Linked DNA regions of Homo sapiens: regions 2 and 3 are each reported to be linked to region 1. Evidence: microRNA targets listed by miRTarBase, many of them from high-throughput screens and not tested one by one. Region 1 holds a microRNA gene; each other region holds the end of a gene's coding sequence.
The links. Region 1 holds the annotated microRNA hsa-miR-6814-5p (UCCCAAGGGUGAGAUGCUGCCA, at 2,124-2,145, shown strand). A microRNA usually pairs through its seed, bases 2 to 8, with sites in the 3' UTR of a target mRNA and lowers its output. Matches are read on the target gene's strand: a 7mer-m8 pairs with bases 2 to 8, a 7mer-A1 pairs with bases 2 to 7 and ends in A, and an 8mer does both.

Region 2: the mRNA of ANKFY1 is a reported target of hsa-miR-6814-5p. The part of its 3' UTR that is shown has no 7-base or 8-base seed match.
Region 3: the mRNA of FBXO44 is a reported target of hsa-miR-6814-5p. Seed matches in the 3' UTR shown: 7mer-A1 at 2,581-2,587.

What each region holds. Positions count from the first base shown.
Region 1 is chr21:41,745,810-41,748,959 of GRCh38, reverse strand. It overlaps MIR6814 (microRNA 6814), which reads left to right and starts at 2,119; the gene lies at 2,119-2,188. It overlaps RIPK4 (receptor interacting serine/threonine kinase 4), which reads left to right. Exons shown (of 8, transcript NM_020639.3): 5 at 2,189-2,347; 6 at 3,098-3,150.
Region 2 is chr17:4,165,372-4,168,371 of GRCh38, reverse strand. ANKFY1 (ankyrin repeat and FYVE domain containing 1) reads left to right here. Exons shown (of 25, transcript NM_001330063.2): 25 at 461-3,000. The coding sequence ends at 593. Among named protein-coding and RNA genes, the nearest start is that of CYB5D2, 24 kb to the right of the region's middle.
Region 3 is chr1:11,660,926-11,663,925 of GRCh38, reverse strand. It overlaps FBXO44 (F-box protein 44), which reads right to left. Exons shown (of 6, transcript NM_033182.7): 6 at 599-2,796. The coding sequence ends at 2,653. Among named protein-coding and RNA genes, the nearest start is that of FBXO6, 1.8 kb to the left of the region's middle.

The DNA of each region.
Region 1 (3,150 bases):
CAGCTAGTTTTTTTGTGGTAGTAAAATATATATAACATAAAATTGGTCATGTTAGCCATTTAAAGTGTATAATTCAGTGACATTAACTACACTGGCAGTGTTGAACAAGCGTTACCACTGTCTAATTCCAGAACATTCTCATCATGCTAGAAGGCAAAGCCCATGGCCATTCTGCAGTCCCTCGCCCTTCCTCCTGCTCAAGCCCCAGCAACCACTCACCTGCTTTCTGTCTCCAGGGGTTTGCCTGTGCTGGTATTTCCAGCTAATTCTTTTTTGTTTACTTTTTAAAAAAATAGTCATAAAATACACAGAACAAAACTTAGCATGTCAGCCGTGTGAAGCATACAGTTCAGGAGCATTACATGTACCCGCGTGCTTGCGCAGCCAACCTCCAGAGCTGCTCAGTGCCATGGAGTTGCTTGCAGGAGTGGCACCCCTGCCCAGCTTGAGAGCTGTGGTGTTTGCTTCCCCAGCCAGGCAGCCACCATTCCGAACACCATCCTCAAAGTTGTCACACCTTGACTTACTTATCATAAAAATCCAGGACTTTTTAGCTTTGTTGGACAGATTCCCTTTTCCTCTAAAGACATTTCTGGGCTACTCATGATATTTTGTGGTGTGACCGAAAATGTCTAAAAATGAAGATGAGAGTCAAGGCCTAGCCCCTTGTTAGTCGGGGCTCAGACTAGGAGCCGATGTATGGGAAAGTGCTGGGGTGAGAAGAGATCTTCCAGCATCGCAAGATCAAGTATCTTGGCAGCTTTAAAAGAATGTCAGTAGAAAGCACAGAACGCGTCCTGCCAGGCCTCTGCTGGCCGGTGTCCGTCTGTGTTGTCTGACCGCCTGTCGCCTTTCTTGCCTTCTGTACGTTCTCCCGCACAGTGGCCTACAGCCCGAAGGCTTGTGAAATGAGGCAGTGTCTGATAGATGTGACACCCGAAGCTAGGCGCAGGGGACAGGTCAAGGCTCAAGCCCTTGTGCTTTATTGCTGAATATGCCTAGTGTTCCCTTATTGGAACGCTAATCATATGGGAATTATTCGTGTCCTACTGTTCAAGGTCATCGCCAAGGTCTGATTTTTCAAATTCAAAAAATTGCAACCTCAGGCAAAAATGGGTAGGAGGGGGTTCAAGGTGCAGGAGAACAAGGCCTCTCCCCAGCTTTTCCAGTCTGTGCTTGGCAGCAGGAAACATTCCGGGCGTTTACTTCAGTTTGCTTCCATTTTATTTAGAGGAGCTGTTGGTTTTGAAGTCTGAATAATCATGGAAATAGCCTGCTAAACACTTAACGATATTTATTGCACAAGATTTAATGGGAAAGTGGAGCAAAACATTGTATGGAATCCTGGCAGCCGTGGGTGATTCTCGGCTGATTTTCCACACCTGCTGAGGCACATGGCCTCTCCAAAGAGCTGCCATTCCATGCGTGGGTGTGTTTGGATCTGGAGGGCAGAGAGGGCTGTTGGGAACAAGAACCTTGAGGGTTCCAGGCTAAGCAGAAAAAAGAACTTGGCCCACTGGATGTCACCCTGGGCCCTTCCCAGTCAGGGTAGAAGTTGTGGCAATAATAATAATAAGCTAGAGCCCATGCATGCTAGTGAAGGCAGTTGGAAAGGACAGGTGCGGCCCCACATGGTGAATTGAGGGGAAAGAGCCCTTCCACACATCCCAGCCCTGGTGCACCGGCAGGGGAGGCCAGCTGGGGACCTGAGCTTGGGATTGGAGTTGGAACTGAGGAAGACTTCTTCGCCATTGTAGAGAGAGTTGGGTCTCTGTGGATGTAGGACGCTGTGGCTCCTCCATGGTGCGTGAGCCTCATTCCCTTTGCTGGCTTGGGCTGTTGATGGAATGAGCCTCATAAGATATTGTTCTCCTTTGAACCTCATCTTCCTTTGGATGGGATGCCTAGAAAGATCTGCTCTGTGACCAAACACACTGACTCCTTCTGGTAGATCAGAACCCAGGGAAAGAGGTCGATTTCAAAACCAGGAAACTAGAGAGCATGGCGCACCATGAGGGTGAGGGTTACAGGAAGCTCTGCCTTTGAAACGGAGTGGGGGAGCCGTCTCCCTGGGGTGGTGTGGGGATGGCCCCATTGTGGCCCCCGGCGAGTGTGTCGTTTCCTCCCAAGGGTGAGATGCTGCCACCCAGCCCTGCAGAGCCCCTGACTCGCATCCTTCCCTTGGCAGATGAGAAGAACATCCTGCACATCATGGTGAAGGTGGTGAAGGGCCACCGCCCCGAGCTGCCGCCCGTGTGCAGAGCCCGGCCGCGCGCCTGCAGCCACCTGATACGCCTCATGCAGCGGTGCTGGCAGGGGGATCCGCGAGTTAGGCCCACCTTCCAAGGTGAGCACCCCGGGGTCTCCCCGCCACATTCTGTGGGTGTCACAGGAGACAGAGGTGACAGACAGGACAGGGTGAGGGACCAGGCCTGGGTGAGAAACAAGGCGTGTAACAGGTGGGCCGAAATGAGCCCTGCACAGATAGGTTGGACCCAGCACCTGCCTGCGGCCTCTGGTACTCACGGCTCGGCCACGGCAGCTGGAACTGAGTTGCCTCCAACCATCCGCCCCCTGCTCCCCACCAGGGTTGGGCTTGCCACCCAGAGGAGTCTGTATGGGAGCCTGAAGTTCAGGTGCAGCCATGCTCTTCCCGGGGACTTACCTGGCCGGTGGCCGGCGGCGTCGCCCTTCTCTTGAGGAGTTGACTTCCTGGGACAGATGTGTCTCTGGCATAGGAAAGTCACCCTGATGAGATGGAAACTGCTGCATTTAAAGCTTACGGCAGGAAACGGGCTGAATGGGGAGCTCATCCGCCAGGTGCTGGCAGCTCTGCTCCCTGTGACTGGCAGGTGGCGCTCCCCCGGGGAAGGCTTCCGCCTTGAGTCTGGTGAGGCCTTCAAATGATTACCGATGGGGGGGCCTGGGTTTGGCCAGCAAATTGTCCATGTAGGGCCCCTGGGCTTGCCTGGTGAGCTCAGGCTGGGCCGAGGCGTGTGAGAAATCCCCCAGCTCGTGGGGGCCCTGCGTTTATATGGAACGCGTGTGTACGCAGAAGTCATCATCCGAGTGACATGTCCCCTTTCTTCCCCACAAGAAATTACTTCTGAAACCGAGGACCTGTGTGAAAAGCCTGATGACGAAGTGAAA
Region 2 (3,000 bases), not on the chromosome of region 1:
AAGCGATTCTTATTCCTCAGCCTCCTGAGCAGCTGGGATTCAGGCATACGCCACCACGCCCAGCTAATTTTTGTATTTTTAGTAGAGACGGGGTTTCACCATGTTGGCCAGGCTGATCTTGAAACCCGTGCCCTCAAGTGATGCGCCTGCCTCAGCCTTCCAAAGTGCTGGGATTACAGGCGTGAGCCACCATGCCTGGCCTGAGCTGCTCTTGATCTTCCAAAAAAAAAAAAAAAAGCCTTCTTCAGTATTGCTTTAACTTGATGATTGACTAGAGTTTTGTTTTCATAGACTAAAAATTCTACATGAATTGTGGTAACCGGGCTGGCAGTTGGCAGAGTTGCCAGAGTAGCATTGCGGGCGCCTTGGCTGCCAGGCCCTGCTGCGGTTGTCCTCACGTGCCAGGAAGCAGAGTCTGTCGTTGGCGCTCCTCTCATACTTCCTTTCTTTGCTTCCACAGTCGTCACTGCGGACGTCTTCTTTGCCATAAATGCTCGACCAAGGAGATTCCTATTATAAAGTTTGATCTGAACAAGCCTGTGCGGGTTTGCAACATTTGTTTTGATGTACTGACTCTGGGTGGGGTTTCTTAGTGAGCCCCCCGGAGGGTCCAGGCCACGTCCTTGGTCACCTCCCCAGCAGCTGCTCTGCTCACCAGCCTGACCCCACCCAGAGCAGGAGCTGGCGGGTGTCTTCCTGCGGCAATAGACTGGAACGATTAAGGACCATGGTGTGATAGATCCCATTTCAAATGATTCCATATGATTGTCAGTGTGTGTGTCAGACTGTGATCGATTTCACTAGATGTCTCACTCATCAGACCAGGCCATTGGGCCTAAGTGGTAAATGTGATTAGGAATTAGACCTCTCCCCATTCTGCTAGCAACATACAGGGACACTTGGAAAACCATTTCCCCTTCCAGTAGCTTGGTGTCCATCCCAGAGCATTCATGAAGTCTTCCCGCCTGGGCTGACTGATGAGGCAGAGCCTCTCAGCGTAGGAAGCTGGCTGCTTAATGAGCTGGCTTTACTCTAGGGTAAGTGGCTGTGGACTTTTCTGCACAGTGTTTTCATAAAGATAATAGGATCCTCTTGCCCTGAAGTCTTTTTTTCTTTTTACGCTAAGCTGTATTTTTAGTGAGCTACCCCTTTTAAAAAGGTGAAATCTTTCTTAACAGGGTTCAAAGATGAGAGCTGAAAAATCGTGGCCTTAACAACTGAAAGCTTTACAGTGTTCATGCTACTGAGGTGTCAGGAGTGCAGCTGGGCCGCTTGACACCTCGTAGCAGCCGTCTCATTCTCTCGTCTTGCTGCGTCCTGTCTGTGGAGTCCTCAGTCACTCTGCTGTTGGAGAGTGCTGGAGGAAATGCACTTTTACTGTGCTGCACTTTTTATAGAGCTGCATTGTCGGTGATTCCAATTTAAAAATCCATATTCAAAAATACCCTCACACATCCCTGCATCAGTGATTCTAATGATCAGCTTTGACTGGACCTCAGCTCACACGAATCTCCAAGGAAAAACTCTACAGAGCATCTTTTAGAGCAAGAGATTCATACAGGCCAAGTGATGAGAGGGGGAGTCACCAAGGCTTCAGCCCCAAGGGCATCTCCAGCCTCAGGCCGGCAGGTCCTATGTCCTTGACACAAATGCTTCTTGCTGAAATCCTCCCTAGTGATGCTGCGAGTGCTGTTGGTCCCAGTTCTGTGTAGCTTGCCCTGCCCCATGAAGGGCCACCAGCCAAGGGCCCTGGCCACGTGTGCGCCACCTTACTTTGGAAGTCTCTGGCTTGTGTGCTGGATGAGGCTGCCAGAACTTGTTGGGCGTTCATCGCTGTTAGTACATATATTAACCGTGAGGTGTTAAACTTTTCTTTTGAAGGTTTGGCCAGTTTCTAAAAAATGCACATTTAAAGAGAAGCATCTACCACGGCTTTAAAACAAAACAACTCTGAGATGAACAATATGTGTTATACTCAGAGATTAACAATCTCAATCATACATACTGATTCTTTCAGACATTTAATAACCACTACATTTTTTTGCATTAATGAAGTTTGACTATATGTGTAAAGGGACTAAATATTTTTGCAACAGCCTGTTCTTTGTTCATTCTTTTCTGGATAGTGTGTCCTCTGTATTGCGGTAGATTTATACATTCTGTTGCCTAAATATGTGTGTAAAATGAGCTGATAAACTGGAGTACTACTTAAAAAAAAGTCTGTGATTTATAAGATGTATATGCTTTCTATGTGAATATAAGCTTGTGCACAATGTTTAAAAGAAAAACAATGAATTAGAAGAGATCCCCCGTCCCCCAGTCTGACATATTTCATACAGAATGTTTAAAAGAAAAACTCTGCTAGTCTTGGCAAACATTTGGCCATGTGAGGCATGTGGTCAGTTTCCATTTTCTATTACCTGGAAAGGGCCATAAGGAAGCAGGCAGGGCTTAGGTAGCTTGGTTACCTAAGTTAGAAAGTAAGAGAATCATGATTCGGATATGAATTGAAGTGGTTGGTACATGGATACCTGTTCTTTAAAAGGAATGTGGGAGATGAGTCAAGGGTGAGGCCGATTGTTCTGCCCATGCCCTACCATACCAATTTCAATAACAATCTTGCCTGTCATTGCACTCAGAATCTTAAGATCATGTTTCAAATATGTTGATTCAAACTTGCTTCTAAGCCTGAGTCCAGGGATAGCAATGGTACTGACCAGCTATGGACTGGGAGAACATTGAGTCCTGTTTTCCATTGGCTTCAGGGCGCATCCATGTGGATATAGGAAAAGCCTCTTTCCACAGACTTAGGAAGCCCCCCGACCACGCGGACGCTCGCTGGGCTGCACTCAGCAGGCTGCTTGAGTGGGAGCTGACTCCAACATGCCCTGCCCTGGCTGGGACTAGGCATGCTTCCAGCCCTTCCCGTGCTCTCCCTGCTGTCAACACTTGCGTACAAACCTGCCTAGCTGTTGTAAGTTTTCATCAGTAGCTTAAGTA
Region 3 (3,000 bases), not on the chromosome of region 1:
AGCACTTTGGGAGGCCGAGGTGGGGAGGATCGCTTGAGGTCAGGAGTTCGAGACCAGCCTGGCCAACATGGCAAAAACCCTGTCTCTACTAAATATACAAAAATTAGCCGGGCGTGGTGGCACAGGTCTATAATCCCAGCTCCTCCGGAGGCTGAGGTGGGAGAATCGCTTGAACCTGGGAGGCTGCAGTGAGTGGAGACTGTACCACTGCACTGCAGCCTGGGCGACAGAGCCAGACCTTGTCTCAAAAAATAAAAAACCTCTGAGGTTTTTTATCAGGATTAAGTTCATGAATTTCTTCCATCAGTCAACAAATATTTAGCAAGCACCTTGTTCAGGCAACCACCAAGGGTTGTGCAGGCTGTGTACTGCACAAGGGGACTGGCCCAGGACACATTAATTGCAGTCAGGGCTACATGTTCTCCGTGGAAGGCCGTCCTTTTGCAGTTTGCCATGGGCTGGTGGGTGGTGATCCTGCCCTGGCCAAAGCCCTTATCTAGCTCACCCTTGACTGAGATAGCTAAATGTGAGGAGTACTTATTGAGCACTGGATTATAGTCCATGTTCACACTGCTATAAAGAAATACCCGAGACTGGGTGATTTATAAAAGGAAAGAGGTTTAATTGACTTATAGTTCCATATGGCTGGGGAAGCCTCAAGAAACAATCGCTGGGCGCGGTGGCTCACGCCTGTAATCTCAGCACTTTGGGAGGTCGAGGTGGGTGGATCACGAGGTCAGGAGATTGAGACCACCCTGGCCAACATGGTGAAACTCCATCTCTACTAAAAATACAAACAAAATTAGCCGGGCATGGTGGTGGGCGCCTGTAGTCTCAGCTACTCCAGAGGCTGAGGCAGGTGAATGGCGCGAACCTGGGAGGCAGAGCTTGCAGTGAGCTGAGATTGCGCCACTGCACTCCAGCCTGGGCGACAGAGCGAGACTCCATCTCAAAAAAAAAAAAAAAAAAAAGAAAAGAAAAGAAAAAAGGAACTTACAATCATGGTGGTGGAAGGTGAAGGGGAAGCAACGACCTTCTTCACATGGCGGCAGGAGGGAGCCGGGGAAACCGTCACTTGTAAAACCATCAGATCTCGTGAGAACTCACTCACTATCATGAGAACAGCATGGGGGAAAACCGCTCCCATAATCCAATCACTTCCCACCAGGTCTCTCCCTAAACACCCAGGATTACCATTCAAGATGAGATGTGGGTGGGGACACAAAGCTTAACCATATCACGCACCAACTGTGTGCCAGGCACCATTCTAAATGCTTCGGCTTCATCCAATGTCCGTAAAGCTGTTGGCAAAGAGTAACACCAGGAGGCAGAGCCTGGGTGGCACTGCTGATCTGGCACAAGGTGGACTCAAGAGCTGCCCAGAGATGTCCACACACCCCAACCCCAGCCTGTGGCTGGGCCTCCAGAGGAAGCCAGCAGTACTGGACGGCTGCCAGGTGAGATACCTGCAGCTCACTGAGGGGTCTGCCCATGAACCTGTTTCTGTGATGGCCTGGTTCCTGAAATGCCAACCCCTCTGTACCTTAGACAGAAGCCATGCCATTGTACCATCTGCAGGTCCAGGCAGGACCACCTAAAGTCTGCCTTTCCTTCCAGAAACCACAGGGCACAGGTTAGACTGGGCACACCTTTTATTTGGCTGCATGCAGTAGGGCGAAGTCAGGAGAACACTGCTATCTTTCCAGCAGGACAAGAGGCAAGTTCCAAGGGTGGTTGGCTGGGAGACAGAGGTCTTGGGAATGGCAGTTCTAGGGGTGGGGTGGGGGCTTGGAATGCTCTCCAAGCCAGAGGGGGCCGGGCCTGGATTTGGGAGGTGGACAGGGGATTCTTCAAACCCCCTACCATACTCATCCAGGGCTCATGTGTCCAGCTGTCAGAGCAGGTCCCAATCCTGCTCCCCATCTACCCTGGGACATCCTGTACAGGATTCCCTCAGTCCTCTGGGAACCTAACCCCACCTGGTACCCATCTAGCTTCTGGGGCTCCACTGACAGTGAGGACAGTCCACACCCGACCTGGACCCCACCCCACCCTGGGTCTGTCCATCTCAGTCCCGGCCTGAGCCTCTGGGCCAAAGCCACCTCTTCTGAGCAGGCAGGCAGAGCGAGAGACTGGGAGCAGCAGACAGGGGCAGAGCACGGCCCATGAGCCCACCCTCCACTTCCCAGATTGGTCAGAGTTACATGGTCACCTCCCTGCACCTGCACCATCAGGGCAGCTGCAAGCTTGCCAGTTGTCTTGCCTGTCCCTGCTCCGAGGGTCAAAGAACACAGGTAGAATGGTCCCAGGAGGGGAAGGGAGAGACAGATCCAGGCTGGCCTCCAAGCTCGACTTTCTGAGGGGCCCAGGGGAACATGCTGCACCTCCCACATCTCAGGTGCTCCGTCTCTGAAAGGGGCACACGCAGGCTTCCCCGGCCATCATTCAGGTCAAGACCTTTCGGGGAGAGCTGGCCCGACCCCAGCATGCGAGGGCTGCCCACACTGAGAGGCTCCACAAAGAAGAGGCTGCTAGGGGCAAGGGTTAGAGGTCTGGGGACACCTGGCCTCCACCTCCCCTTCCCAAGCCCAGCCCTTTTCTGACAGCAGTTGTTTACCAGTCAGGGTTCAGCAGATGGGGGCTCAGGGGGTGTCAGGGCAGCGGGGGCCCGATGGTGATGCTGCTGTTGGTGACCCTCGGGCCGTACCAGCCGGCCCAGTAATGAGTGTCCACGCCGCCGTGCTGAAACCAGATGTAGCGGACGCCGGGCGGGTAGTTGGAGAATGTGTGGGAGACCTGGCAGGGCAGGTAGAGGGGGGAGAAAGGTCAAGGGAGCTGACTCAGGCTGGGTGTGGCGGCTCACACCGGGAATCCCAGTACTTTGGGAGGCTGAGGTGGGAGGGTTGTTTGAGCCCAGGAGTTTGCAACTAGTCTTGTCGCAAACCAGAGAGTGAGATACCATCTCTACAAGAAAAAAAAAATTAGCCAGGCATGGTGGTG